7 separate regions of the Homo sapiens genome follow, and regions 1, 2, 3, 4, 6 and 7 are each linked to region 5. The links come from fine-mapping of genetic effects on gene expression. A gene starts in region 5. Each other region holds a variant in brackets. All regions are shown on one strand. Distances are between the middles of the regions. Region 1 overlaps LRP6 (LDL receptor related protein 6). Region 2 overlaps BCL2L14 (BCL2 like 14). Region 3 overlaps LRP6 (LDL receptor related protein 6). Region 4 overlaps MANSC1 (MANSC domain containing 1). Region 5 holds the start of LRP6 (LDL receptor related protein 6). Region 6 overlaps LRP6 (LDL receptor related protein 6). Region 7 overlaps LRP6 (LDL receptor related protein 6).

What was found. PIP is the estimated chance that this variant, and not a neighbour inherited with it, causes the effect.
Region 1: its variant is fine-mapped to the expression of LRP6 in whole blood (INTERVAL, PIP 0.99).
Region 2: its variant is fine-mapped to the expression of LRP6 in lung (TOPMed, PIP above 0.99).
Region 3: its variant is fine-mapped to the expression of LRP6 in whole blood (TOPMed, PIP above 0.99).
Region 4: its variant is fine-mapped to the expression of LRP6 in whole blood (GTEx, PIP 0.95).
Region 6: its variant is fine-mapped to the expression of LRP6 in fibroblasts (GENCORD, PIP 0.95).
Region 7: its variant is fine-mapped to the expression of LRP6 in whole blood (INTERVAL, PIP above 0.99). The same link has a PIP of 0.9 or more in T cells.

What each region holds. Positions count from the first base shown.
Region 1 is chr12:12,177,443-12,181,692 of GRCh38, reverse strand. LRP6 (LDL receptor related protein 6) reads left to right here. Exons shown (of 23, transcript NM_002336.3): 6 at 254-650; 7 at 1,712-1,883. Among named protein-coding and RNA genes, the nearest start is that of MIR1244-4, 68 kb to the right of the region's middle. The variant CTATA/A (reference allele first, on the strand shown) is at 2,282.
Region 2 is chr12:12,093,064-12,097,313 of GRCh38, reverse strand. It overlaps BCL2L14 (BCL2 like 14), which reads right to left. Exons shown (of 6, transcript NM_138723.2): 5 at 2,384-2,650. Among named protein-coding and RNA genes, the nearest start is that of MIR1244-4, 17 kb to the left of the region's middle. The variant T/C (reference allele first, on the strand shown) is at 2,149.
Region 3 is chr12:12,170,632-12,174,881 of GRCh38, reverse strand. The region is part of intron 7 of LRP6 (LDL receptor related protein 6); the gene reads left to right. Among named protein-coding and RNA genes, the nearest start is that of MIR1244-4, 61 kb to the right of the region's middle. RefSeq lists a silencer at 2,625-2,674. The variant C/T (reference allele first, on the strand shown) is at 1,735.
Region 4 is chr12:12,326,631-12,330,869 of GRCh38, reverse strand. MANSC1 (MANSC domain containing 1) reads left to right here. Exons shown (of 4, transcript NM_018050.4): 4 at 1-4,239. The coding sequence ends at 843. Among named protein-coding and RNA genes, the nearest start is that of MANSC1, 21 kb to the left of the region's middle. The variant A/G (reference allele first, on the strand shown) is at 1,990.
Region 5 is chr12:12,264,565-12,268,814 of GRCh38, reverse strand. It overlaps LRP6 (LDL receptor related protein 6), which reads left to right and starts at 1,771. Exons shown (of 23, transcript NM_002336.3): 1 at 1,771-2,134. The coding sequence starts at 2,080. RefSeq lists enhancers at 1,541-1,590, 1,128-1,764 and a silencer at 1,771-2,080.
Region 6 is chr12:12,230,110-12,234,359 of GRCh38, reverse strand. All of the region lies in intron 2 of LRP6 (LDL receptor related protein 6), which reads left to right. Among named protein-coding and RNA genes, the nearest start is that of LRP6, 35 kb to the left of the region's middle. The variant G/TG (reference allele first, on the strand shown) is at 1,774.
Region 7 is chr12:12,207,251-12,211,500 of GRCh38, reverse strand. All of the region lies in intron 2 of LRP6 (LDL receptor related protein 6), which reads left to right. Among named protein-coding and RNA genes, the nearest start is that of LRP6, 58 kb to the left of the region's middle. The variant T/C (reference allele first, on the strand shown) is at 1,811.

The DNA of each region.
Region 1 (4,250 bases), 87 kb after region 5:
ATTAATTCCAATGAAACCATAGAATGTATCACAACTTAATTTGGAGAGTTAGCCATTAAACAGCTTGACCTCAGAGTAGACTCTTCTATTTCACTGTATTACTTTCCATTTCCACTCTAAAGAGAGTGCACATCCTTTTGTGTTAATTTATGTATATTTTATATTTATTTTTCAGTTCTTGATTCTTTATCTAGAGCAGGTAAATTTTACCTCTGGGTTTCAAAGTATTCTTCATTTCACTTTGTTGTTCTAGGTGCCACAGAATTATTGCTTTTAGCTCGAAGGACAGACTTGAGACGCATTTCTTTGGATACACCAGATTTTACAGACATTGTTCTGCAGTTAGAAGACATCCGTCATGCCATTGCCATAGATTACGATCCTGTGGAAGGCTACATCTACTGGACTGATGATGAAGTGAGGGCCATACGCCGTTCATTTATAGATGGATCTGGCAGTCAGTTTGTGGTCACTGCTCAAATTGCCCATCCTGATGGTATTGCTGTGGACTGGGTTGCACGAAATCTTTATTGGACAGACACTGGCACTGATCGAATAGAAGTGACAAGGCTCAATGGGACCATGAGGAAGATCTTGATTTCAGAGGACTTAGAGGAACCCCGGGCTATTGTGTTAGATCCCATGGTTGGGTAAGAAGCTCTACTGATAGTAAATTCTGTGTGGTGTTTCTGTTTTTCACAGGTTCCTGAAAACATTGACTAAGATAACATGACATATATATTGGTTTCCAGTAAACAGCTCTTTAATGGCTGTCTATTTTAGGATATGGTGATTAGAATACAATCTCAAGTTTAAAAATTGCTAGTTTTTTGCCTTGGATGTCTTAGATATTTTTTCTTTCTAAATTAAGTCCATGTTTGCTGACTTTGGGTGTTGTCTGCAGATTTTGCTCGGATTGCATCATTACCATGAAAAATGTGGGAAGAAATTGTTTTCAGAACTCTTTCCCTTCCCCTAGAAGCTTTAATTCCATTTTCAGTACTTTATAGTAAGAATATAGCTTACTTTTTTTTCCCTAAATACATGAATGACTTGATTTCCAAAACTTTGCCAGCCCATGCAGCTTTACTTCTAGTTTGTTGTTGTTGTTTGTTTTGTTTTGCCATGCCACCCTGATCATAGTCCAGGGAAGTACAACTTTTTACATACTCAACAATTTTGTTACTTTGAGATTTATTCTGAGGACAAGCATAGTGACAAATTACACCTCAGTATATACCAATGCCTTAGAGCCATCTAAACATCCAGGAGCCGTAAGAATCACTTAGCACTGCAGGAAGAAATAGTTATTTTGAGAATTCAGTTTGCCATCTGACTAATACTGCTGGGATAAGCCTTTTGTGTCAGAGAGATGACAAGCCATCAAGGAAAAGAGAGAGAAAGTTCATGGAAAAGGGCACACAAAATATTTAAAAAAAAAAAAAAAAAAAAGAAGTAAAACTGTAATCTCATTATTGGGAGGCATTTTCAGGATTGGCTCTAGAACACACTGATCTGAAAATTTCCCACAATCTTATATATTGCTGGGATAAATGTCTTAAACACCTCTTCATATGTTTTTTTTTTTTTCCCCTTCCTTGGCATTAACTGATGATACCAGTGTAATAGGAGGGATGGATCTCACCTTTAGAATATCTGAAAGTTACATTTTATTATCTATTTTTAGCTCATTTTTTGTATACTTCTCTAGGTACATGTATTGGACTGACTGGGGAGAAATTCCGAAAATTGAGCGAGCAGCTCTGGATGGTTCTGACCGTGTAGTATTGGTTAACACTTCTCTTGGTTGGCCAAATGGTTTAGCCTTGGATTATGATGAAGGCAAAATATACTGGGGAGATGCCAAAACAGACAAGATTGAGGTTTGTTTTTTGCTTTTTCATTTTCAAGCCACTTTTATAATGGGTTTTGAGTCGACAGTATAATGATTTGAGTACAGATATTCTTTTTTCTTAACAGTTGTCTGGGGTGCCAAAGGTACCTTTTACAGAAATTTTACTCAACCTTCATGATTCTAGGGATAATATATTCTCTTCCACATAATCCTAGGATGGAGAGATGTATTGGTATGAGAAATGGCTGCTGATCAGTTTCTAGTCTTAAAAGCTTATGTAAGTGATTTTCCTCATTTTGGGTAAAGCCACTTTCTGAATTTCCTAGGGGCAATTTCTGCAAACCAAAATTATGTAAGATCTATACTGGAAGAACTGGCTGTCCTAAGTTAGGAAAACAAAGCCCACATGTATGTGTATATCTATAT[CTATA/A]TCTATATCTATATCTATATCTATATCTATATCTATATCTATATCTTTTATTGCTGTTAACTGGTGTTGGGGCAGATGGTAGAATATATTAAATATTATGATGGTTACATGCAAACAATTTTAAAATTGATTTATGGGCTGTGTGGGAACAAGACTAATTAACCAAAGCTTGGGAAAAAATATTTACCAAGTGGTAGAGTTAAGTTTGTGGCAATCAAATAGATTATGGTGAAAATAATCAGTGATTAATATTTTATCACAGTGTTTTATTAGTGGCCTATATCCCTGATATTGGTGTTAAGTCTAAAATTAACAACTTTGAATTAGACTTTGCTACAGGTCTTATGGATCACATAGATAGAACAGAGTTAGGTCTCAATTTTCCTTTGGGGGAAACTTCACATACAAGGATGGCTTTAAATGGCTCTTCAGAGAGACACTGTACACATCTAATGGACAGAAAATTCAGACTCTAGAACAGTTGTTTTGGAAAGGTATTCTGTAGAGTGCCCATGACCCTGAGGGAATAATGACTTCAAGGCCTTGCTTCCAAAATGGAAACTTGGAATAGAAGAAACCCCGTTAGTATTCCACCAGGCTCAAATACTGAAAACGGCATCTGTTGTTCTTGCAGCTGGTTTTCATTAATAGAAAATTTTGCATAGACTCCATAAATTTTCTCCCTGTTAGTATTTCACTGCCTCCCACTCTTTTCAAATCCAAGTTGATGTTTGAATCTTTTAACAGTTGGAGTGCATTGCTGATGAGACAAAGGTTATGAGTTTATGTTTCAGACAGGCTTTTAGCTTCATTTTGGTCAGCTTGAATATAGATTGCCTACCTAATCCCATCTAGTTCACACCTGTGGATTATGAACTATACATGAGTGTATAGGTACGAGTATGCTTAGGAAAACAGTTTAAAGCCCATAAGTTTTAGAAGAATATCTGTAGCAAGAAAATTTACGTAAGGGAATGCACCAAATTTATTATCATGTAGGGTTTTTAAAATTCCGTATTTGGTTTTGCCCATCTTAGTCTGCTATAACTGACTGATTAGCCTGAAAATAAAATCATTTGTTTCTTACTGGGAATATTTCAAGTCTTATTTTCCTCACTTTAGGTATAATACTTTAGATACAGAAATTTATTCAGAATAACAAATAGTTCAGAAGGGATTCAGATAAAGACATTACAATTTATGGAGGTTCTGAGTGACCATCTTTAAGAATAAAAATTAATACACTTTATATAACAATATATAACATTGATTAAATAGGATTTATTTTCCTAGTTTGCAGTGAGTGCAGTAGATTTTAAAATTAGAATTCCTTTTCTGGCCTCTTTGTTATGTTTTCTTGAGCTATGCATATATATATATATACATACAGACACATACATACAGTGGTGTCATTGGCTCCGTCACCCCTTCTTTCCTTCTTCCCTGTATGGTACCAGCATCCTTAAACCTGTTTTTAATTTTTTTCATTCATTCGTTCATTCGTTCATTTGTTCCTTCATTCATTCGTTCTTTTAATCTGCAAAGGCTCTGTCACCCATAAATCTTATTTTTAGATCCATCTTTCTCCTTCTAGGTTTGCTGGAACACAACTGCTGTTTGTTTTTTGTCCCCTTTTTATAGATTGATGTTTGTGGTAAATTTACTTCTGTATACATGAAGACCTCCCTTTATAATTTCCCCTGGAGATTCTGATGTCCTAATTCACTATTAGGACATCAGAGCCTTTGTCATTTTATTTACATAGGCACGTCTAGGAAATACAGCATATAGTTATTTATTCTCTTCTTATGTTGATGTAAAATCTGATACTTGGCAAACTAAAGAAAGAGTGCAGCTCTTCGTCTAAATTAGTCCTGCATAACTCGGGGAGAAAATCTGGGGTTTTCCATCCTGAGACTAGTAGTGATTCTAGGAGCAACTGCTACTACCAGCTTTTCATCTCCC
Region 2 (4,250 bases), 170 kb after region 5:
TCATCATTCATCAGTTGATGGACATTTGGGTTGCTTCCACTTTTTGGCTAATGGAAGCTATGAACATTCATGTACAAATTTTTGTATGAAAATATGTCTTCAACTTTCTTGGGTATATATCCAGGAGTGGAACTGGTAACTTTATTTTTTTTAATTTTTTTTATTTTTTGAGACAGAGTCTCGCTCTCTCTCCCAGGCTGGAGTGCAGTGGCGCGATCTTGGCTCACTGCAAGCTCCGCCTCCCAGGTTTACACCATTCTCCTACCTCAGCCCCCCTGAGTAGCTGGGACTACAGGCACCTGCCACCATGCCCGGCTAATTTTTTTGTATTTTTAGTAGAGACGGGGTTTCACCGTGTTAGCCAGGATGGTCTCGATCTCCTGACCTCGTGATCCACCCGCCTCGGCCTCCCAAAGTGCTGGGATTACAGGCGTGAGCCACTGCGCCCGGCCCCTGGAATTGGTAACTTCATAGTTAACATTTTTGGGAACTCCCAAGTGGTTTTCCAAAGGGACTGCACCATTTTACAATCCAACCAGCAACATAAAAGGTTCCAATTTCTCCACATCCTCACCGACGTCAATGCTTTTCTTTTTCATTTTAGCCACTGTAGTGGATAGAGCTCAATGTTGCTTTGATTTGCATTTTCCTACTGTTGAAATGAAGATGTCAAACAAGCGTCTTTTCATGTGCTTTTAGCCATTTATATATATTCTTTGGAGAAATGTCTATTCAAATCCATTGCTCATTTGAAAATTGGGTTATTTGACATTTTATTGTTCAATTATAATAGTTCATTATGTATTTAGATATGTCTTTTATTAGAGATTTTATTTGCAAGTATTTTTCCCCATTCTGTGGGTTGTTTTTTTTTTTTTTTCACATTCTTGGTGGTGGTGTTCTTGGAAGCACAAAACAAAATCCAATGTATCTATTCTTTCTTTTGTTGCTTGTGCTTTTGGTGTAGAACCACTGCTTTTTAATAGCATATTTATGGTATTTTAGCTACATTAGTGGGTTAAACAGATTTTTGAGAGCTAGCCTGTGAACCCAATTGATAATTATAATTTCTCTGAGAAAATATATTAAGAGGACTAACAATGATTTTTAAAATGAATGCTTGAAACATAGTCAATTGGGAATTTGATCATCTTTTGTATATTATTATGGTGCAAACATGAAGTGCTGGAGATTAGAGACTGTGCAGCCTTTGAGCTGGAAGGGTCAGGAGAGGCTTTGGGGCAGATGAGGGCTCAAGGGGGTTGTTGGGGTGAAGGAATCCTGGAAAGAAGAATAGGTAGAACTAAAATAATGTTGAGGAACCTGTCCTCCTTTTAGAATAAGCTAAGGCAGCTTAAGTTTAGAATACTTAAGAATGGCCTTGGTTGTTCAGATCAGCCACTTAGGGTTATCAAACTTGGTGCAAAAGTGGAAAATAGAAAGGAACTCAATGTACAGAAACTGAAGACCGTGGCAGCCACTGAAGACCATGGCGGGCACTTCAGACCCTTGGGCAAGATCAGCTGCACTTTCCTTCCATCAGCAAAGAGACCAAGGCTGTGTGGAGGTCCCAGGGTCACTCCAGCCATGCCTAGAGCCGACTCAATCCTCCTGCTGGCCCCTGGACCATTCTAGTGGAAAGAGAACTAAGGATAATGTGGGATGAAGGTCTGTCCGCCTAGGAATGCCTAGGCCTGTTGAGAGTTAAAGTTGTGGGGTAGTACATTTTGACACGGTGGACCTTATGTAGCTGTTTGAACATGGCAGTCTTAAGGAGACCTGAGGAACTGGGGATGAGGGATGGGAGAGGGTTTGAGGCAAAAGGGAAAGAGGTCTGTTTTGACTGATACCAGGTAATTGAAAATAGATGAAAGTTTAACTGTTGGCTTTTTATTTGGTATCAAAATGTCACCCTCAAAATGGCTGGGTCAAAGCAGCAATGACAAAATGCCATGAACCCTGAGTCTCTGCATGAGGCTTAGTCTCCGTGACCTCTAAGTATCTGCAAGTGTGAGGAACTGTCTGCCTGCCCTTGTCTCCCTGCCAGACTTCCGTTGCCTGCAAAATTTGTGAAAACAGAAATTACGTCTATCTAAACATTTCTTATCTCAGCATCTCCTCATTTCCTGTTCCATCTGACCAGTCCCT[T/C]TCCATCCACACATACCCTGCATACCCTTGGAGAGCTCAGTAAATATTTATTGATGATGAAGATAATCACTAAAAATATGTTCCCATCAATGGGATCTATCTCTGGCCACTCAAGTGTCCTAAACTCATGAGAACTGCTTCATAGATGTGTTCCCTTCATTTAAAAAAAAAAAAAAAATCCATCCCATCTCTTCTGAGTTCTGAGAAAATTTGTTTTTAAATAGGATACGCTTACCCATCCACCGTGCTGCTGGATCCATGGCGAGAAGTTCTCTTTCAGGTACTTGGTGCCAAAGCCCAGGACCCTGTTCATCGGGTGGTTGTCAATAGCTGTGAGCTTGGCCGTGACGTCTATTACAAGGGCAGCCTTAAAGCCCTGAGCTTTGACCTCTGATTCTCCCCTGGGGTCCACACCCATTAGGACCTGGTCTGTGATGGTCTTGAAAACAGAGTAGGACAGCCCATCCTGGAAGTGGCCCATCAAAGCCTTATCTTTCTTCAGCTGTGTACAAAAGAATAAGCACTCAGTACAGTAGCTTGGCTCCACGAGGCAGACAGAAGTTCATTCTTTAGCTCAAATGCAGGCCATCAAACCATCCTGTGGAAAACCCTGGATGCTGGTGTCAACCAAGGGAATGGGGATGAAGGCAGTGTCCTGCAGAACCAGAATGGGCATGTACTGCTCGGTGAATTCATTTCATCAGCACAAATACATGTATAAAATGGAACAGTCAGTTCATTTGACATTTAACAAATATTTCCTGAGCACTTATAATGGGCAGGTAGTATGGATGACTGAGATGCGGGTCCTCACTCAAAGGGCTCACAGTCTAGTGGGAATTGCAGAAAAATGTGATGTCCTTTGCTAGAAGTAGTGTAAGGGACAGGATCTGAAGCTTAGGAATCACTGTCTTGGCTCAAACCCCTGGGTCCACCTCTTACTTAGCTATGCAATCTTGGGGAAATTAACCTCTCAGATTCAGTTTGTCATCTCTAAACTAGGATGGTGATAGTATTGATACTATAGGGTAATTGTTTTCTTTCTTTTTTTTTTTTTTAAGACAGGGTTTCACTCCCATTGCCCAGGCTGGAGTGCAGTGGTGTGGTCTCAGCTCACTGCAACCTCTGCCTCCTGGGCTCAAGTGATTCTCTTGCCTCAGCCTCCCAAGTAGATGGGACTACAGGTGCATGCCACCACACCTGGCTAATTTTTTTCTATTTTTTTGTAGAGATAGAGTTTCGCCATGTTGCCCACTCCTGGGCTTAAGCGATCCACCCACCTCAGCCTCCCCAAAGTGTTGGGATTACAGGCATGAGTCCCTGCACCCAGTCTTCATTTTCTTTTCTTTTCTTTCTTTCTTTTTTTTTTTTCTGAGATGGAGTCTCACTCTCTTGCCCAGACTGGAGTGCAGAGGCGCGATCTCAGCTCACTGCAACCTCCGCCTCCCAGGTTCAAGCAACTCTCCTGTCTCAGCCTCCCAAGTAGCTGGGATTACTGGCACACACCACCACACCCGGCTAATTTTTGTATTTTTAGTAGAGACAGGGTTTCATCATGTTGGTAAGGCTGGTCTTGAACTCCTAACCTTAGGTGATCCACCTGCCTCGGCCTCCCAAAGTGCTGGGATTACAGGTGTGGGCCACTGTGCCCGTACCCAGCCTTCATTTTCTTAAGAAACTTTTATTATTATTGTTTTTTAGGGACAAGGCTTACTATATTGCCCAGGCTGGTCTCAAACTCCTGGCCTCAAGCGATCCTCCCACCTCGGCCTCCCCAGGAGCTGGGATTACAAGTGTGAGCCACTGTGCTTGGCCCTATACTATAGGGTAGTTGAACACTTTATAGTGCTGGACATAGAAGAGGTGCTTTGGAAATGCGAGTCATTTTTCAGGATGCTACGGGAGCATGGAGGTCAGGGAAGACTCCCTTGCATGCAATGTTCACTTAAAAAAACTCCAATTCATTGATTTCTTTCCCATTATTCTACCCTATTGATTTTACCTCCCGGCCTTCCCTTGAACCTGGTATCTCTCTGCTTTACCTCCTTTGAACTACCACGCCTTTAAAACAAAATCAATGCTGCCTCTTCTGCTTTTGAAAA
Region 3 (4,250 bases), 94 kb after region 5:
CCTTTGTTGGGAAACAGAAACAAGGTTTATTAGAACCTTTAGTACCAAGAACTTTTGAATAAAGAAGGTATTATTTTGTATGATGTGTACTGAAAACTTGGCATTTGCTGAATGTTCTGTTTCATATTCTAAGCCTGAAATTGCAGGGCTACATTTTCCTATGATAACTTCCTTTATTTCATCAATACCCTAATAAGGAAATTTGTTTCCCAAGTATTCAAACTTCTTTTTTAAAGGAGTTTCTTTGTCTGGTATCTTAGCCTTTGTACTGTTAAAAACATATAGGAACCTGTTGATAATTTTTTTTACTGTTGGTTTGTAAGATTAATTCCTCATTAAGAAATTATAATAAATCTATTGTTGAGATAAGGCTGTTCTGATAATATGACAAGTATCAACAAGTACTTCCTTTTGAATCTTTGCCAATTTGTAACATTGTGTTTCTTAAAATTGATTATACCTTCAGTTTGAGGCTGGGCACGGTGGCTCACGCCTGTAATCCAGCACTTTGAGAGTCTGAGGTGTGCTGATCACTGGAGGCCAGGAGTTCGAGACCAGCCTGGCCAACATGGTGAAACCCCGTCTCTACTAAAAATACAAAAATTAGCCAAACGTGGTGGCATGCGCCTGTAATCCCAGCTATTTAGGAGGCTGAGGCAGGAAAATTGCTTGAACCCGGGTGGCGGAGGTTGCAGTGAGCCGAGATCAGGCCACTGCACTCCAGCATGGACAACAGAGCAAGACTCTGCTTAAAAAAAAAAAAGAAAGATTGATTATACTTCAGTTTGAGAAATATTCAAAATAACTAATTTAAATACCTAAATATTTGCCCATTTGTGCTACTTTACCACACAACATGTACTGTATGTTAGTATGGATATATATTTCTCCCCAAATCTTCATAACATATGATCAGAGAAGAATGATATTGATAAACTCCATCATTAGATTCCTCAACTCAGCAGAGCACCTGGAGTTTGGACTTAATGTTCATTGAGTTGTAAACCTGGTGCTGGCCTGTTGTGTTATTTTGTGTCTGGGGTACATCGCATAACAATGAAATTTGTGAATTCCTATTTGAAAATTGCTAGTTGATTATTGGGCACAGTGGCTCACACTTGTAATCCTATCACTTTGGAAGGGTTGAGGTGGGAGGATCCCTGGATCCCTTGAGGCTAGGAGTTTGAAACCAGCCTGGGTAATATAGTGAGATCCCCGGCTCTACAGAAAATAAAAATTAGCTGGGCGTGGTAGTGCACTCCTGGAGTCCCAGCTACTTGGGAGGCTGAAGTGGGAAGATCACTTGAGCCCAGGAGTTTGAGACAAGCCTGGGCAACATGGCAAAACCCCATCTCTATAAAAAATGCAAAAATTAGCTAGGCATTGTGGTGTGCAACTGTAGTCCCAGCTACCCTGGAGGCTGAGGTGGGAGGATCACCTGAGTCTGGGAGGCAGAGGTTGCAGCGAGCTGAGATCATGCCACTGAACTCTAGCTTGGGCAACAGAGCAAGACCCTGTCCCCCCAAAAACAAAAGAATTTATTTTAGCTGTGCTTAAAAAGAATGAGAGCAGAGAGGGCAGTTTTCCCTTGTTGACATGTTAATCTTTTCCCTATTAGGTTTTTGGGGCCTCAGGACAGTGAGGCTTTCAGAAGTGTCTTATGAAGCAGTTGAGTATAATTGACCAGGATGTTGACATTCGTCATCATGATGCCTTCATCTGGAACTCTGTTCT[C/T]AATTTTTTCGTTTCCTGGAGTAATTCAGGTTTTAGAAAGCTTTGGTCACAGTAGCAATTTTTAGCTCTAACAGAAAAAGAGCATAGTAATTGCAAATCTTTAATATTCAATGCCTGATTCCTTGCAAAAAATATTATAAAACTACCCAGAGTAACTATGATACTTCAATTCTTTTCATATTTAAAATCACTTATATGTACTCAGACTTAATGTATCTTGAAGTAGGTTAAAAGGCTTTGAATATAGCACTGTAATTGCCCCTACCTCTCTCTCAAACAGGTGTGTGGTGTCCCTTTACTTCACCTACTGGGTCCAAAGCATTTCTTTATACTTGTCATCTCAGTGAGATTTGGCATGATTGAAATGTTATTTCCGTGGATAAATATTCTGTGTTTTAAAATCCCATTTGTGTGAAATTATATTTTATGTTCTATGAAGTTGTATCAGAAAAAATATGCTCCCCAACCCTCAGTCATATCTGTCTTCCTTATGTATAAGCTTTTAATTCACTGCTTGTTTTGGATATTGTCTGGAACATTAGAAGAGGAGTGGTTCATTTTGGGCATAATTTGAGTTTCTCTTCTAGAACTTTATAGCATTCCAACTCTAGCACATTTTATGGTGGTTGCTTGGTTGTCCTCCTGCATCTGTTCCTTGAACTTGTCTTGTCAAGTGAAGTTGCATAGCAGCAATTTTGGTAGTAGACTGGCTGCATTCCAAGATTGCATGGGCAGTCCTGTCTTGACATTTAATGAGCTGATGAAATGACTCAAAAACTGGATGTGATGTCTGTAGAAGATTTGCCATTACTTCTTCTTTGTGCAGATAATGTTATGGTTAACCCACGTCTATTTCCTCTTGTAGCCTATATTCTCAGTGTGGTTTAGAATATTTCAGAATGTTAAACCAATGTGCCACAGTGTGGTCAAAGCAGCTGAAACCACTGGAGACTCTGGTTCAGATTTGGAGTTAGATTTTAGAAGTGACAGAAGCCTAATTTCAGTTTAACTAATTAAACCACTCTGAGGTAATACAGTGAAGTACACCCTTAAGAGTTGTCAGATTTAATTAACATTGGCACAGTTTTTAAAGCATAAGTGTAATCTTTTGGAATTGCCTAAAGTGGTTCATTTGTTCTGGGTTCAGAATATACAAACAAGCTTTTGCCAGGATTTGTGTTATTTTAAACATAAGGAGCTTAAACTGTATTTATAGACCTAGTAACCTGTCCAAAACTTTTACAGGAATATGAGAAATGGAATAGTGATTTCTTTAAGACAGAGCAACATGTTCTTATTTCACTATGGTTAACTTGTGCCCGGTAGAAAAAGATTGTGTGGCTGGTACAAGAGAAATACTTAGTGGAGAAGTCAGTTTTCTAATAGTGTCACCTCTACAAAAGTAATGGAAGGAAACATTTCAGAAATTGGACTTTGTGTGAAGGAAAATACATTATCTGTGTGTTTAGATGCAAAGTCTCACAGTCAGATATTGTTTAAGCTGGTGATCCCTTAATCTCTTCGGAGGATCCTTATAATTCCTTTCTATACCATACTAACAAAAATGATAATAGCGTTTATTTATTTATTTATTTATTTATTTATTTATTTATTTTATTTTTTTTTGAGACTGAGTTTCACTCTGTCGCCCAGGCTGGAGTGCAGTGGCACAGTCTCGGTGCACTGCAAGCTCCACCTCCCGGGTTCACGCCATCCTCCTGCCTCAACCTCCTGAGTAGCTGGGACTACGGGCACCCGCCACCACGCCTGGCTAGTTTTTTGTGTGTGTGTTTTTAGTAGAGATGGAGTTTCACCATGTTAGCCAGGATGGTCTTGATCTCCTGACCTGGTGATCCGCCCTCCTTGGCCTCCCAAAGTGCTGGGATTACAGGCGTGAGCCACCGCGCTCGGCCAATAATAGCATTTATTAATAACAGCAGTTATCATCATCATTATTATTTGTGTGTCCTTGGACTTGCTTCTTAGCTTTTTCTCTTCATTTTTTAAAAATTATGGAAAATGTCAGAGTATAGAAAGCAGAGTAGAGACGACCATGAACTACCTAGTTTTAACCATTGTTAGTACATGGCTGATCTAGACTGCAGCGTGTCTTAAGCAGGAGGGCTAAGGAGATGGCAGAAATGGGTTTTCTAATAATATATCTATGGTCTTAATACTTCCTTTTTGACATAGCCTAAAATAAATGAAAGAATCAGGTCTTTGTTGCTCCTTCTAACTAACCTCTTAGCTAGTGTTTTATATGTAAACTTGCAAATGTGACAAGAAGAAAAAAAGTAGTTTTTTTCATCTAAGACGTGTGTGTGTGTGTGTGTGTGTGTGTGTGTGTGTGTGTGTGAAGTAATTTTAACTTCATATTAGAATTAAATAGTATATAGCTTGGAAGAAAGAAAGACCAAATAAAAGACATTTGTTTGAAGCTTTAGTGAGCCTGATCGATCTGAGGTAAGCCTGAAGGTGACAGGTATAGAGGGGACAGTGATGTAAACTAAAAAAGG
Region 4 (4,239 bases), 62 kb before region 5:
CCCCTAGCCCATCATCACACAGATTATTCAAAGCCCACCGATATCTCATGGAGAGACACACTTTCTCAGAAGTTTGGATCCTCAGATCACTTGGAGAAACTATTTAAGATGGATGAAGCAAGTGCCCAGCTCCTTGCTTATAAGGAAAAAGGCCATTCTCAGAGTTCACAATTTTCCTCTGATCAAGAAATAGCTCATCTGCTGCCTGAAAATGTGAGTGCGCTCCCAGCTACGGTGGCAGTTGCTTCTCCACATACCACCTCGGCTACTCCAAAGCCCGCCACCCTTCTACCCACCAATGCTTCAGTGACACCTTCTGGGACTTCCCAGCCACAGCTGGCCACCACAGCTCCACCTGTAACCACTGTCACTTCTCAGCCTCCCACGACCCTCATTTCTACAGTTTTTACACGGGCTGCGGCTACACTCCAAGCAATGGCTACAACAGCAGTTCTGACTACCACCTTTCAGGCACCTACGGACTCGAAAGGCAGCTTAGAAACCATACCGTTTACAGAAATCTCCAACCTAACTTTGAACACAGGGAATGTGTATAACCCTACTGCACTTTCTATGTCAAATGTGGAGTCTTCCACTATGAATAAAACTGCTTCCTGGGAAGGTAGGGAGGCCAGTCCAGGCAGTTCCTCCCAGGGCAGTGTTCCAGAAAATCAGTACGGCCTTCCATTTGAAAAATGGCTTCTTATCGGGTCCCTGCTCTTTGGTGTCCTGTTCCTGGTGATAGGCCTCGTCCTCCTGGGTAGAATCCTCTCGGAATCACTCCGCAGGAAACGTTACTCAAGACTGGATTATTTGATCAATGGGATCTATGTGGACATCTAAGGATGGAACTCGGTGTCTCTTAATTCATTTAGTAACCAGAAGCCCAAATGCAATGAGTTTCTGCTGACTTGCTAGTCTTAGCAGGAGGTTGTATTTTGAAGACAGGAAAATGCCCCCTTCTGCTTTCCTTTTTTTTTTTTGGAGACAGAGTCTTGCTTTGTTGCCCAGGCTGGAGTGCAGTAGCACGATCTCGGCTCTCACCGCAACCTCCGTCTCCTGGGTTCAAGCGATTCTCCTGCCTCAGCCTCCTAAGTATCTGGGATTACAGGCATGTGCCACCACACCTGGGTGATTTTTGTATTTTTAGTAGAGACGGGGTTTCACCATGTTGGTCAGGCTGGTCTCAAACTCCTGACCTAGTGATCCACCCTCCTCGGCCTCCCAAAGTGCTGGGATTACAGGCATGAGCCACCACAGCTGGCCCCCTTCTGTTTTATGTTTGGTTTTTGAGAAGGAATGAAGTGGGAACCAAATTAGGTAATTTTGGGTAATCTGTCTCTAAAATATTAGCTAAAAACAAAGCTCTATGTAAAGTAATAAAGTATAATTGCCATATAAATTTCAAAATTCAACTGGCTTTTATGCAAAGAAACAGGTTAGGACATCTAGGTTCCAATTCATTCACATTCTTGGTTCCAGATAAAATCAACTGTTTATATCAATTTCTAATGGATTTGCTTTTCTTTTTATATGGATTCCTTTAAAACTTATTCCAGATGTAGTTCCTTCCAATTAAATATTTGAATAAATCTTTTGTTACTCAGTAGTGTTCTCATAAGTAGCATGTCCAGCTGGATAACTTTCCATTTATTTCCACTAGCAAAATGATTATGTGGTGAAAATATGCGTTCCACGTTAAAATGACAACCCCCCCTTTTTCCCATCAGTGAGCAAAGAGCTTCACTTGGGAGAATCTAGCGGAATGTTAGCCCACATGGAGACAATGATAAGTCAGTTCTGATAAATGGCCATATCCACTTGGGATCTGTTCTAGTTAACTTGTGTGTGTGTGTGTGTGTGTGTGTGTGTGTGTGTGTGTGTGACAGAGTCTTGCTCTGTCACCCAGGCTAGAGTGCAGTGGCGCGATCTCGGCTCACTGCCAGCTCCGCCTCCTGGGTTCCCGCCATTCTCCTGCCTCAGCCTCCC[A/G]AGTAGCTGGGACTACAGGCGCCCGCCAACACGCCCAGCTAATTTTTTATATTTTTAGTAAAGACGGGGTTTCACTGTGTTAGTCAGGATGGTCTCGATCTCCTGACCTTGTGATCCGCCCGCCTCGGCCTCCCAAAGTGCTGGGATTACAGGCGTGAGCCACCGTGCCCGGCCTCTAGTTAACTTTTTAAAGAAGTATTATAGACATTTTCTAAACTTGTACTAAGTTAAAAATGTACCACTATTATTTTATATCCTTACTTAAATTGACCAGCAATCAGTCTAAGCTTAATTTAGAACAACATTGGAAATAATAACTAGCACAGGCCAGGCGCGGTGGCTCACGCCTGTAATCCCAGCACTTTGGGAGGCCGAGATGGGCAAATCACGAGGTCAGGAGATCGAGACCATCCTGGCTAACACGGTGAAACCCCGCCTCTACTAAAAATACAAAAAATTAGCCGGGCGTGGTGGCGGGCGCCTGTAGTTCCAGCTACTTGGGAGGCTGAGGCAGGAGAGTAGTTTGAATCCAGGAGGCGGAGGTTGCGGTGAGCCAGATTGCACCATTGCGCTCCAGCCTGGGCAACAGAGCCAGACTCCGTCTCAAAAATAATAATAATAATAACTAGCACTAACATGATGCTACAATTTTTACTGGTTACCAATTAAAATTTCTGAGAAAGGCTTTTAATAAAGTTTTCCAGACAAGTTATAGGTGAGGTAACAAAGAGTCCAGAAGTCCCCTGGGTCAGTTTGATACCTCTTTCCTCTGGACTTCAATTTGCTTATCTGCAAAACAGGAAATTTGATCCCTTCCAAGTGTCACCAGAGTTTTTAAAGATAAAAATGGAATTCAGATGCGAACTTAATACAGTGAGCACTAGAGGGCAGTAGCTGGTTAATAAGTACAGCAATTAAGACAAATGCAGGAAATGACAGAAAAGGCTTTTCTTCTCCTTCCTCCTCACCTCTTCCTTCCTCCTCACCTCCTTCCCCTCTGCTCTTCTGGTACCCCTCCCCCATTTCCCTGGTTTACACTAAGTTCATAAAGTACATTAAGAGGAAAGCTGGTCTATTGAAAATACTACTTTTCTTATATTTTCCAACTTAACAGCTTGACACAAATCTCCAAGGGGTTTACATAAGCTTTAAGTAGGCTGAATAAATAAAACCTTGAGTCAATTTAACTTAACAAGTATTTATTGAATATCCACATGTAGGCCAGAATCAGATTAGTAACCAGGTGCCTTGGAATTTTAAAATTTCTCCTCTCTTTATTAATGGATTTAGCGAGTGGAAATCAGGCTTTCTGTGATGGTTTATAAAGGTATTTTCCTGGCTCTCTTGGAGTTCTCTGTCCACCTTGCTGCAGTCTTTGTTGTGATGGGGAGACCACATGGGAGCGGTCCAGATGAGTGATGCTACGGGCCCAAACTGTTAGTGGCCGTGAGGATATAGGTTGTAGGGGACATCTGGAGTGGAAAGAGTGCTCTTCTCACACAGCTCTCTCTACTTACTGCCCCTAGGATGGTGGGTGCAACTGTGGCAAGGGCAGTCAGGGTAGGGGAATCCCTTAGAGGAATTCAGCAGTGACTAGTCTGGTTAGCCTTTCCCACAAGGCCCATTGAGTTATGAGCCCCCTCCTTTGGTTTGTAGAAAGAGAAGGTAGCAGCCTAGAACAGGTGAGAAGATGAGGTAGGTCCTTCTGCTCAAACATCCTCTCTCCGTATTTTACCAACACGATACTGACCTAGGTTAAAAAGCTACTCTTGGCCAGGCGTGGTGGCTCACGCCTGTAATCCCAGCACTTTGGGAGTCCAAGGTGGGTGGATCACCTGAGGTCAGGAGTTCTAGACCAGCCTGGCCAACATGGTGAAACCCCATCTCTACAGAAATACAAAAATTAGCCAGGCATGGTGGCAGACACCTGTAATCCCAGCTACTTGGGAGGCTGAGGTAGGATAATTGCTTGAGGCCGGGAGGGGGCGGTTGCAGTGAGCCAAGATCGCTCCATTGCACTCCAGCCTAGGCGACAGAGCAAGACTCTATCTCAAAAAAATAAAATAAAATAAAATAAAAATAAGCTACTCTTAGCCAGGCACATAGTGGCTCACATCTGTAATCTCAGCCCTTTGGGAGACTGAGGTGGGAGGATCACTTGAGCCCAGGAGGTCGAGGCTGCAGTGAGCCATGATCACGCCACTGCACTCCAGCCTGGGCGACAGAACGAGAGCCCATCTCAAAAAAAAA
Region 5 (4,250 bases):
GAAGGGGCCTGTGAAAGTGAAGGTTAACTTTCTTTTCTTTTTTTTTTTTTTTCTGAGACGCAATCTTGCTCTGTTGCCCAGGCTGGAGTGTAATGACGCGATATCGGCTCACTGCAACCTGCGCCTCCTGGATTCAAGCCATTCTCCTGCCTCTGCCTCCTGAGCAGCTGGGATGACAGGCGTGTGCCACCATGCCCGGCTAATTTTTTTTGTATTTTTAGTAGAGACGGGGGTTTCACCATGTTGGACCAGGCTGGTCTCGAACTCCTGACCTCGTGATCTGTCCGCCTCGGCCTCCCAAAGTGCTGGGATTACAGGCCTGAGCCACCCGCCCCCGGCCCAGTTTCCTGCTTTGAGGAAGCCAGAATACAAAACTCACTTGGTTCTTAGAAGCAGGTCATTTAAATAAACGGTGACTAGACCTCAGGTGAATTTGGGAGAAAGTGATTTGGCTGTTTCTGCTGTCCATCTACTTACAAACCTGCAGCACCTTTGGTTCAGCGCGCATTTCTTGGAAGGAGCGGAGTGGCTTAAGTCAGAGACCTGGATTGGGCTGAGGTACTGCTATTCATTACTTGAGTGGCCCTGGGTAAGTCATTAACCTCTCAGGTTCTCATTTTGCTCCTCTGTGCAATAAAGAATAAGTAACAAAACCTGCCTTTCCCCAGGGTAGTTTTGAGTGTCAAATATGATAACTTGTGTTCAAGCACTAGTGAACTCCAATGTCACTGAGGTACTTGTTAACATTGTGGTAGCAGCTCCACTTTCTTGCCCATCTGCCTCCAGGTAAGGGCGTGTGACAGCTGGGCAGGATGCATCTGATGGCTCCATTAGGGTTAACTGTTGGAGCGCCTCTGCCCAGACGAAAGCCTGGCAGGTGATTTCAGGGGGCGTCTGGGCCATTACTCCTGAATGCCCAATGCACTGGGAGTAGCAGAGGCTGTGCACAGTCTGAGATTCTAGGGAATCTTTTCCTTCTCAAGCTGAGAATTGATAATCGAAGCATGCCAAACATTCGTTATTATATGCAACTTGTAAAATCCTAAATAGTCTTGTCCAATTGTCCCTTTGCTCTTAGGTTTTGAGGCATTTATCTTGGAATTTTATCTGCCAGTTTAGAAATCTTTAGCTGGTCGGGCTTAATTCTGGGGGCAGTTTGTATTTCTGGGAAGGCGGGAGAAAAATGACAATCTCAGTTTTGAATTGGCGTTTTAATATCGTTCACCAGATCCACGCTGAAAGCCGGTGTAAACAGCGTTCAAAAATTCCGCCCTCCCAAAAAAAGGATGCTGAAACCGATTTCCAACCCCGAAGACGGAGCTCATCACCCCGCAACGGGATCCGCCGTGGCTCCCCGCGCGTGCACCGCGGCTGGGCAGTCTCAGGTGGCTGGGGGCGCGAGACCGGAGCCCCACCTGGCCCTGCCGGCGGCGGCCGCACAAAGAGCGGGGCAGACGGCTGCCCGGCCGAGCCGCAGAAAGTAGTCCCGACCACGCCGGCTCCAATGTTGTTCAACGCCGCCTCACGCCCTCCGCGGGGAGGGCCGAAGCGGCCGGTCCGGGAAAGAATCCCGCTGGAATGCGCCACCGGGAGGAGGCTTTCCCTCCCAGTTCGCCTCTGCTAGCCCAGAACCTCTCCCAGGGTCTCAGGCAGAGGCTGTGCGTGCGGTTGCCGACTCCCTTCCCTGGCCGTACAGGAGGCAGTACCGGGAGAAGGGGCTCGTTGCGCGCAGGGACACGGTCGCGGCGACCCTAGGAGGCGGTGCCGACCGTATCCCTGCGCCGCTGCGCGAGGCAGAGGCTGAATGAGGAGCTGCGCGGGGGAAGCGGGGCGCCGGGGGAGGAGGCGGCGGGATGGAAGCAGACGCTGGCGTCGCGCGAGCCCGGGGCCGAGCGGCGCGGTAGAGAGGGCGGCGGCGGCGCGCGCGGAACCTTGACGTGCCCCTTTCTTTCTTCTCTCGCTGGGAAGCTGGGAAGTATGAGCGTGCAGCCCTGCCGCTGCGGCGGCCGCCCCGGCTCCTCGCCTCCCCCACTTCTGGCCACCCCTCGCCGGTGAGAGAAGAGAACGCGAGAAGGGAAGATGGGGGCCGTCCTGAGGAGCCTCCTGGCCTGCAGCTTCTGTGTGCTCCTGAGAGGTGGGAAGAGTGGGGGCACTGGAAAGTTGGTGGGGTTCGGGGGGAGGTGGCCTTGTTGTATGTGTCTAGGGGGAGGGGAGGGACGGAGGAAGGGAGAAGGGGAGAGGAGCGGGGAGAGGCCTGGTCGTGGGGAGGGGGAGAGAAAGGGGCCCGGGAGCAGGGGCTGCGTGCACCGCCCGGCCACAATGCGGACCTGGCCTGGCTTCCCAGACCTTCCCCGGACACATCGGAGCTTCGATCCCGGCTGCTGGTCTTAGGGAACCCTTGGCACCCCATGCTGTCGGGATGACTGAGTGTCTGTGTGCCTCTCTCTGCCTGGGGTCTTCCAGGGAAAAGGGTCTTTGTACGTATTTTGGCTTTTAAAATGTTTGAGTCCGAGATGCTTTAAGGTTGGCCTTATCCATCGAAGCCCCGCCACCCACTCCCCACCCCGTTTCGGTGTTTCTTAGGTGAACTTTTAAAGCCCTCTTGCTATTTTTTCCAGGCCTTGTTACAGGTAATGATTGGCTTCCGTTTGGGATATAATGACCCTGGGTGAGAGCGCAGTTGGAAAGTGACTCCGGGGTTATAGGTCGAGCGTTTCAGCATTGGGAGCCTTCTGAGCTTCAGCCCATAATAAAATAAAACATTGCCCTTGTAACCTCTGGTATTCACGGCTTGCCCCTATTTTCGGAGTATGCAAGTGTACAGTTGGCACTAAGTAGGGAAATTCATCCTCGTGTGAAGAGGAGCCGGTCCTGGGACCAAAATGATAATTTGCTCTGCACCCCTGGGGACTGCTTGGCACTTTGGTAAATTGCATAGGCTGTTCGAGATAATTTGCTCTGGGAATCGCTTGAATTCGATGGCACTATGATGTTTTGAATTGGACTGCAAAGCTGACACATGCTCTGTGACTTTTGTGACAGTTCACAAAGATTTTTGACTGGCCCGTCGGCAGCTCTTCTCAAACTATTTAGTGTTGAACTTGAGATGGCTGTGATGGCTGTGGAGCATTTACCAGCAGAGGAATTTAAGTACTGCTCGATACGGTGGCTTGTAGTTTTGGTTTGGTAAAGTTCTTACTGGCGTTCATAGTAAGTTCTTTTCAGGCATGTGACCGCTGGTCGCTGGAGATTTTTAGGTGTTAACAAGCTAAACTTTTGTTAAGTTCTCCAAACTAATTTAAGTTTACAGAACACTAATAGTAACTAATAGTCTGTGACAGGTGTATATTTTTGCGTGTACTGTGTATATGTATTTCGGATGAGAATGATTGAGTTTTTTTTTGGAGGAGGAGAAATACTTTCTTCAGTTACTCTGTAGTAATGCAGCATTGTGTTTGCATGTTATATTACTTGATACTCTAAGCATATTACAAAGTTTTCCCACATGTAAACCCCGGAAAGGTAGTGTTCATTAGATTTTTGTGGCAGAAATTTTAATGAAGTGTTACGTACTGGAGAGGTTTCATAAGTATATACTTATTTTATTATTGGCATACTCTATTGAAAGGGGTTTTGCTGTAGCTGTTAGAAACAACTATATTTGACATAAGAATATGTATGTATTTTAAGACATAAGGTTAATAGGGCTGACAAATATGAGAACCAGCTGATTGGTTAGAGTCGTGGGAAAACTTATAACTTGGGATGTTTCTGGTTGTCTAGTTGTATTTCTTGGAGGAGAAGCGTGTGATGTAAATGCCGTTTGTTTAACACCAGCTTTGAGACCAGAGCTGGGTTTGTTCATTATTGGAATTTAGATAGGTTGCACTTATTTATGTAACAAGACCTGGAAGAGGTAATAGTTTAAATTGTCTCGTTTCCACTAGCAAAGTTTTCAGAAGTGGAGCTCTCGTTTTAAATGTGGCGAAATATGGTGTAAGGTGGTCTTCTAATATGTAACAGTACTGTACTTAGCTGTGAGTACATATTATTTGAAGTAAAACTGTCTTTTGATGTAAAATATTTTTGTTCATAATTTAGAATTAATTCATTCTTTGAGAATGTCATCCTCTGTTATAGTAAAGATATTTAGTCAACCTTGGACTCCAAGGAGAAAAATCTGATTGATTTGTTGCATTTAGGTCATTTTTTTCCCCCACAAAGAATTGGGGCTTTAACATTGGCTGGGT
Region 6 (4,250 bases), 34 kb after region 5:
TTTGGCCTCAGCCTCTCAAGTAGCTGGGACTACAGGCATGTGCCATCATGCCTTGCTAATTTTTTTTTTTTTGAGATGGAGTTTCGCTCTTGTTGCCCACGCTAAAGTGTAATGGTGCGATCTTGGCTCACGGCAACCTCCGCCTCCTGGGTTAAAGCAATTCTCCTTCCTCAGCCTCCCGAGTAGCTGGGACTACATGCATTCACCACCACGTCTGGCTAATTTTGTATTTTTAGTAGAGACGGAGTTTCTCCATGTTGGTCAGGCTGGTCTCAAACTCCTGACCTTGTGATCCGCCTGCCTCGGCCTCCCAAAGTGCCGGAATTACAGGCATGAGCCACCGTGCCCGGCCAAAACTTAACATTTTGAATGTCATTCCATATCATTTCATAGAGATCTTCCTCATTGTTTTTTGCCAGTGCATAGTATACCATTGTGTGAGTGTACCATAGTTTATTCAACTACTCTCTATGTGTAGGCTTTTAGGCTGGTTTTTTTTTTAATTAGCTGAGATATTTTAAAGCAGATTCACACATCGATATCTCACTTGTAAATACTTTATTTTCCATCTCTAAAAAATATTTTTTCTAGAATCATAATGCCACTGTCTTTCACACAACTTGCGATGAACAATTCTTTAATGTTATAAATTAGTCTGTTCATACTCAGATATCTGTGTCTCAGAAATGTTGCTTTATAGTTGGTTGTTTGAAATCAGAGTCCAAACATTTGGTTTACAAGTTGTATGTGGTTTTTCTAGAGCAGTTCAGTTGGTCCTCCCCCTTTCCCTTTTTATCTCTCACCTTGTTGACTTAATTGAAAAGACTGGGTCAGCTGTCCTATAGAATATCCCAGATTTTTTATTTTCATTCATTCATTCATTTATTTTTTTGAGATGGAGTCTGACTCTGTTGCCCAGGCTGGAGTGCAGTGGCATGATCTTGGCTCACTGCAACCTCCGCCTCCCGGGTTCACGCCATTCTCCTGTCTCAGCCTCTTGAGTAGCTGGGACTATAAGCACCCACCACCATGCCCGGCTAATTTTTTTGTATTTTTAGTAGAGGCGGGGTTTCAGCGCATTAGCCAGGATGGTCTCGATCTCCTGACCTTGTGATCCACCCACCTTGGCTTCCCAAAGTGCTGGGATTACAAGCATGAGCCACCGCGCCCAGACAATTTTTTTTTCTAACAAATTATTGTGGTATTTGACTTATTTTTATCCCCCTGTGTTACTTGGAAAGAAAGATTTGAAGACTTGATTAGAGACAGATTTAACATTTTGACATGAATGCCTCATAGGTAGTACTGAGTACTTTGTATTTGTCACATCAGAAGTTGTCCTATATTGTAGTGTTGCTAAGATTATTCAGTAGGTTCAGATGGTCAGATTTTCTGAGCAGTTGGGATGTTAGGTGCATCTTTTGTTATAATATTTGGTTTTTGACTCTAGTGCCTGAAAGTTACTATCTTTATTTGTAAGTTGAGCCCTTTCCTCTTGTGTCCTTAAGTTATTTGTGGGATGATCCTTTTGTATTTTGCCAAATACCTAGTTCCTTATTAACCACTCATCTATTGATTATTTTAGCATGCACTGAGGATTGCTTCTTGTATTTTCTTATTAGAGATATGTTATTGTTTGATGATGTCTTTTCTTGTGTCATATATTTTATTCCATCTTTTATGTGTTTTCATCATTTAAATATTTATAATCTCTATCAAGTTGTTCAGTTTTCTGAAGTTCTTAAAAATCTACTTCTGTTTTTTTTTTTTTTT[G/TG]CACCTGCTGGATTCTTGCTTAAGGTTAAATGTTTCCTCGAGTGTTTTATATAGTTTTGGACTGTGAACAGATCTTCAGAGAGGCTGTCCTTGAGAATTCTGAATGACTTGGGGGCATATTCCTCCAGAGAGATTTTGGGTTGCTTTTGCCAAGTTCACTGGAAGTGTTTCCAGTGACCACTTAAATTTTTTTTTTTTTTTTTGAGACAGCGTCTCACTCTGTCGCCCAGGCTGGAGTGCAGTGGTACGATCTCGGCTCACTGCAGGCTCTGCCTCCTGGGTTCTCGACACTCTTCTGCCTCAGCCTCCCAATAACCTGGGACTACAGGCACCCGCCACCATGCCCGGCTAATTTTTTGTATTTTTTAGTAGAGACAGGGTTTCACCATGTTAGCCAGGATGGTCTTGATCTCCTGACCTCGTGATCTGCCCACCTTGGTCTCCTAAAGTGCTGGGATTACAGTCGTGAGCCACCGTGCCCAGCCGACCACTTAACTATTTAAAGTATAATTTATATACAGTAAATTGCACAGATCTCAAGTGTGAAGTTTGAGTTTTGTTTTTGTTTTTGTTTTTGTTTTTTTTTTTGAGGCAGGGTCTCGCTTCGTCAGTGGCGCAGTCTCAGCTCACTGCAACCTTTGCCTCCCAAGCTCAAGCAATCCTCCCATCTTAGCCTCCTAAGTAGCTAGGACTGTAGGTGTGTGCCACCACATCCGGCTAATTTTCATATCTTTTGTAGAGATGGGGTTTCACCATGTTGCTCAGGATGGACTTGAATTCCTGGGCTCAAGTGATCTGCCCATCTCAGCCTCCCAAAGTGTTGGGCTTACAGGCATGAGCCACTGCGCTGCTCAGCATGAGTTTTTTTTGTTGTTGTTTAAACAAAAACAAAACAAAAAAAAAACCGTTTCCTGGGCTGATCTAAAAACTTCTGGGACTACAGGCATGAGCCACTGTGCCCGGCTTAGTTTGAGTTTTGGTAAATGAGTTATCAAATGTTATCATTGCCTTATTCAAGCAGAAGTCATTTTTTATATTTAATTTTTGAAGTTGGGAGTTTCTGTACTATGTGGATAGAATAAATCAAACTCTAAACCTATGTAGGGGCAGTCTTATGATTATGAAATCTTTGGTGATCTTTCCTACCTTTTCAGAGCCTAGGGCAAGACAAAAAAGGCTTCCTGTGTCCCTCTGCCAGTGGGCAGATCTTTCTACTTCATTGTTCTTTGAGAGTCCATGCTTTGTGCAGGAATCTTACTTCTAACACTGTGTCTTGTGTGCCAAGATCTTCTCTGGCTTGTCATTGGAACAGAAGTTTCTCAGTTTCTGAAATCAGAAAATCCAGGGTCGTCATAGCATCAGGTCAAACATGTACTGCTTTTTTTTTTTTTTTTTTTTTTTTTTTTGAGATGGAGTCTTGCTCTGTCATCCAGGCTAGAGTGTAGTGTCACGATCTCGGCTTGCTGCAACCTCCGCCACCCAGGTTCAAGCCATTCTCCTGCCTCAGCCTCCCAAGTAGCTGGGATTACAGGCGCCTGCCATCACACCCGGCTAATTTTTGTATTTTTAGTAGAGACGGGGTTTTACCATATTGGCCAGGCTGGTCGCGAACTCCTGACCTTGTGATCTGCCCACCTTGGCTTCCCAAAGTGCTGGGATTACAGGCGTGAGCCACTGCGCCTGGCCATGTACTGCTTTTTACTTTCCTGTTCATTTTTGGTCTCAGGAGATTTCTCCTACTTTCTTGATAAGTTCTACATTTAAAGGGGTGTTTGTATATTTTATTTTGTGTATATGTACAAATCAAATAAAAAGATTCACCAGTAGTTCTAGATGTTTTGTAAAAGAAGTATTTTCTGGTTGTCTTTTTACCATATTACCAGAATAGAAACTCTGACTTACATGTTTTAAAATATTGTCTATTCTTTCATGTACCATGTGCATGATAGTTGAGGATTATTCATACTTGCTAATATGTATATTAATGACTTATTTTAATTATGGATAGGATTATATAAGTAACTTCAAGGATCATGACATGATTTATGATCTAGTATAGATCTGGGTCACTTAGTTTTTATAGCTCAAGTCTCAATGTCTTAATTAGTCACCTGTGTATGTAATTACATCTTGTAAAGGGTGAAATTTCATCCCTTTAGTCTAGATTTATTGAAACTGAACATTTTCATTATGGGAAGCCGAATTCAGATTGAGTATACTTACCAAATTAGGGCTTGTGAATATTTTGGAAGATTTGTTGTTTTATCCTTACCTAATCAAATAAATTAAATGCTTTGGATTGTAATAAAAATGTATAAAGTAAATTTGTATAAAATGGCTTGTGTGTCTAGTCTTATTATCAGTTTGAGATATTTTTATTTTCCTGGCATAAGAAATTGTGACATCTTGAAAACTTAATATATGTTTACTTGCTTTACTTCCCTCCCAGTTAAAATGAAGCTCATCTTCTACCTTTC
Region 7 (4,250 bases), 57 kb after region 5:
TCATCATCTTACCGTCCCAAACCATGTCTATCTAATTCCATTCCAGACTCTCTTTTTTTGAGACGGAGTGTTGCTCTGTCACCCAGACTGGAGTGCAGTGGCACGATCTCGGCTCATTGCAACCTCCACCTCCCAGGTTCAAGTGATTCTCCTGCCTCAGCCTCCCAAGTAGCTGTGATTACAGGTGCCCACCACCACGCCTAACTAATTTTTGTATTTTTAGTCAAGTTGGGGTTTGGGGTTTCACCATGTTGGCCGGGCTGGTCTCAAACTGCTGACATCATTAGCCGCCCATCTTGGCCTCCCAAAGTGCCGGGATTACAGGTGTGAACCACTGCACCCAGCCCAGACTCTTTTATCTGGTTACTGTATATTCTCTGTAAAAACAACCACAGAAACCAACCTGCTAACATGAATGCTTTCACTATCCTCTTTTATTAATTTCTACTTGTTTTTAAAATATGATACCAACACATGATCAAGTAGAGGGGAAGTGCAGAAGTAGGTCCGATTTCTTCACAATTCTTTTTTTCTTTTCACTTCTATTAGGAAGCAGAAATCCGTAAATTCTTCAAACTCCTCTTCACTTAAAGCCTAATCTACTAACCGGAGTAAGAGAGGAACATGGGGTCAGGAATCAAGTTCAGGGGTTAGTAACAGGAAGGGTGTGAATTTTACACAACACTTTTCTTTTTCACATTAAAATCAGAACTATTTTCACTGGCTGCATTTTCAATTTGATAATGATGTATGTGATTTTTGAAGTTTCCCCCAAAATAAATTTGATGGCAACAAAATGTTTTTGAGGACCTGTGGCTTTTTATAGGTCCTTTCAGAGTTACTTACATGTGTCACATTAATGTTCTTAGAATTAGCATGGCTCAACACTTCTGGATTGACTTAGTTTCATATGCAACTCGTAATTGTGATTTATTTTGCCCTGTTACTGTAGACCAACTTCTTTGACTGTTAATATGCTTTTTACTTTATTTACCTTTTCTAACCAACTTTCACTTATTTTTACACTGATTTTCCTGTTATTCTATTGACTGGTGGTCTGGATACAGAAGGAAAAACAATGAGGTGAGGATGCTTCAATTCATCCATATTTGAACTCATCATCTTGCTCTCCCAAACCACATCTAATTCCATATTATGTTGAATGACACCAATACACACACATTCACATTTGTAAATCTTGGGAGCCATCCTAGTCTATCCTTTCTCATTCCTCTTTCATATTGATCCAGTCCTCAACTTCTGTTGCCTTCATTAGTTCTTATTTGGAATATTTCAGTTTTCTGGCTTTTTCTTGTTTCTTCTTCCTCTAGCCAGTCCCTCAATGTTATTGTCACTGGAGTCCAAGTTTCTTAGTATAGTAAAATAATACACGTGGGATTTCTTTCATTGTCAATGTACCTCACGATATGCTACAGCTCTATGGATCTTCTTGCTGTTTATTGAATATATCATGACTTCATATGCTATGTCCTCTTCCTGGAACACTATTTCCCATTTTGGCAACTGCCTAAGTAAAATACATACTTTCTCTGGTATATTTTATTGACAACTCTTACATTCATTGACTTGATTGGGTGTCACTTCTCTATACTCTCAGAGCCTCCTGTTTATACCTTCCTCAATATACTTGCCACTCCTTGTCTACATTGCGAATTTCGTAAGGGCAATAGTTTTGCCTTGCTTATTTTCATATTCCCTGTATCAGGCATGGTGCTTAGCTCCTAATAGGTGCTCACCGCTTTAATAGGTGTTCAAAACCTTAAGAAAATTGAATAATATATTGGTAACT[T/C]AAAAAATACTTTTTAAAAATTTTCTGTGTCCTAATCGCTTTTTCGGTTACATTTGTAATGAGCTTTTTAATTTAAAAGTTAATGAAAATGTTTAGTATTTATAGATGAAATCTATTCCTTTATATTTTAAATATTTGCACAAATGAAGGCACATCTGTAATCTATTTAAAAATGCTAATTTTCGTCAAGTTCTCATCTGACAAATGCCTTAGTTTCACTTATTGTAGTTGGAATCTTTATCTGGGTCTTATCCTTGAAAAAACATGACTTGATTTATTTTTTAGGGTTGAATAATGAAGGGATTATCCATTAGCTTTGGTACATAGTGGCATGCAAATACTTTTATTCATTACTAAAATCTTGTTAGGTTGACTCACTCATTTGTAACATTTTATTTCACCATAAACTAGACACTGAGTTACAAAGTTAAATGCTTAGATTAGTTACAGTTAGGAAACCTACCTAAATTATATTGTACAAGAAAGACAATAGCCCTTATTGCATTTTCTGTCTTTATAGTGTGCAAATTGCTTCTGGTCAGCCCAGCCTGTGATGGCAACATTTCAAACTTTGTATCACGTAATCTCAAGTAATGCATGTTGCACACACGGCGCAGAGTATAGATTAGTAGATATTGCAGTGAGAGTAACTTCTTATTTCTCTACACTTGTTTGTTTAAAGATACTGGTAGTTTTCATTTTATGCATTAATAGAGAAAAGATGGGAGGTGGCTAATGAAGTGTGCTGTGGACTTGTTTTTAACTGTATTACTCTATCAAGATGGAAATATCAATTGATTTGTGTATTAAAGATATCCTGAGGAGAAATCTAGTTCATATATTATAATAGACATAGGCACACAAAACCATTTCACTGTTTCTGGCTGTCCCTATGCTTAGGTTATTAACCTTTTGTACTTCTTTCTCTTCTTGTAGCATCTCATGTGTCTTCCTTTACCCATTTCAGTGTGCACTGAGTTGGGGGTTAGAGGAGAAATTGAAAATGGAAAGCACAAGGTCTGGATTCATCTTTATTTAAAAAAGAATACGTGCAATGTGCCAGTCATTGTGATGTGGTAGTGACACCTAGTCTTTACCTTTGAGTTCTTTATAGTTTATCTACAAACTCTGATAAGTACTATAGTATATAACAAAACCTGCCAAGAGCTCAGAAGAGGGAATAACTTTGCCTTAGTAAGCTGGGAAAGGTTTCTAAGAAAAGTTACCTTTGAATTAACTTCTTGAAATAGTTTATGTTTCTTATTCACGTTTTAAGCAACTTTACTGAGTTAGAATTTACATGCAAAAAATTCATATTTTTTTGTTGATTGTTAAATGGGCTTTGATAAATACACCTAAGACAAACGTTCATTACTCTACTCCAGAAGGTGCCTTAAGCCCCTTTACAGTCAATCCCTTACTCCTCCCCAGTAACTGTGAATCTGGTTTTATCATCATAGATTAGTCTTTTTGATTTTACATCTATAGCTTCATATAATGGGATCACGTAGTAGGTACTCTTTTATGTGTGGTTTCTTTTGTTCAACATAATTTTAAAAAGTCATCCTTGACATTGATAAGTAGTTCTTTTATGTTGCTGAATAGTATTCCATTGTATGAATATATTATATTGACTGGATTCTGGATTCTGACCGCTCCCTGGGCTTGTTGCCATTGTTGTGTGTTTTTGTTTAATGACTTTCCTGGATTACTTCTGTGGTCTGTTTTCCTTTTAAAATATTTCTTATGCCTGGCTTTCTGGGGGATTGCCTCTGTGTCACTGTTATCTTAGTGGTCAGCTAATGATTGCTTAAAGGTTGTTCCTGAACACCAGCAAGTTAGTGTTACCCCATTTTCCTGTGGACCTGTTTATGGTTTGGAGAATGTCTTAAAATTTTAGGCAATTTCAAATTTGACCCATGTTCAGCCAGAGACTAGCTTGCAAGTGTTCTTTCTGGTGTAGCGTTACACATGCAGACAGCCTTCCTGACTACTAAGCATGAATATCCACTTAAGGCTCTTCTTGGCAGTCTTTTTCCTAGGATCTTCCTGTTAGATTTCTGGCTAGTTTGCTATTTTGTTGCTTGCCCCCACCAGAGTCAGTTAGATAATGGCCCTCGTGATGCCTGCCACTGAAAGCGTTATTATTATTAATATTATTATTATTATTTTTTTGACGGAATCTCAAAAGTGCGGTGGTGCAATCTTGGCTCACTGCATCCTCTGCCTCCCAGGTTCAGGCGATTCCCCTGCCTCAGCCTCCCCTGCCTCAGCCTCCTGAGTAGCTGGGACTACAGGTGCACACCATCATGCCCAGCTAATTTTTTGTGTTTTTAATAGAGACAGGGTTTTTACCATGTTGGCCAGGATGGTCTTGACCTCTTGACCTTGGGATCTCCCTGCCTTGGCCTCCCAAAGTGCCGGGATTACAGGCATGAGC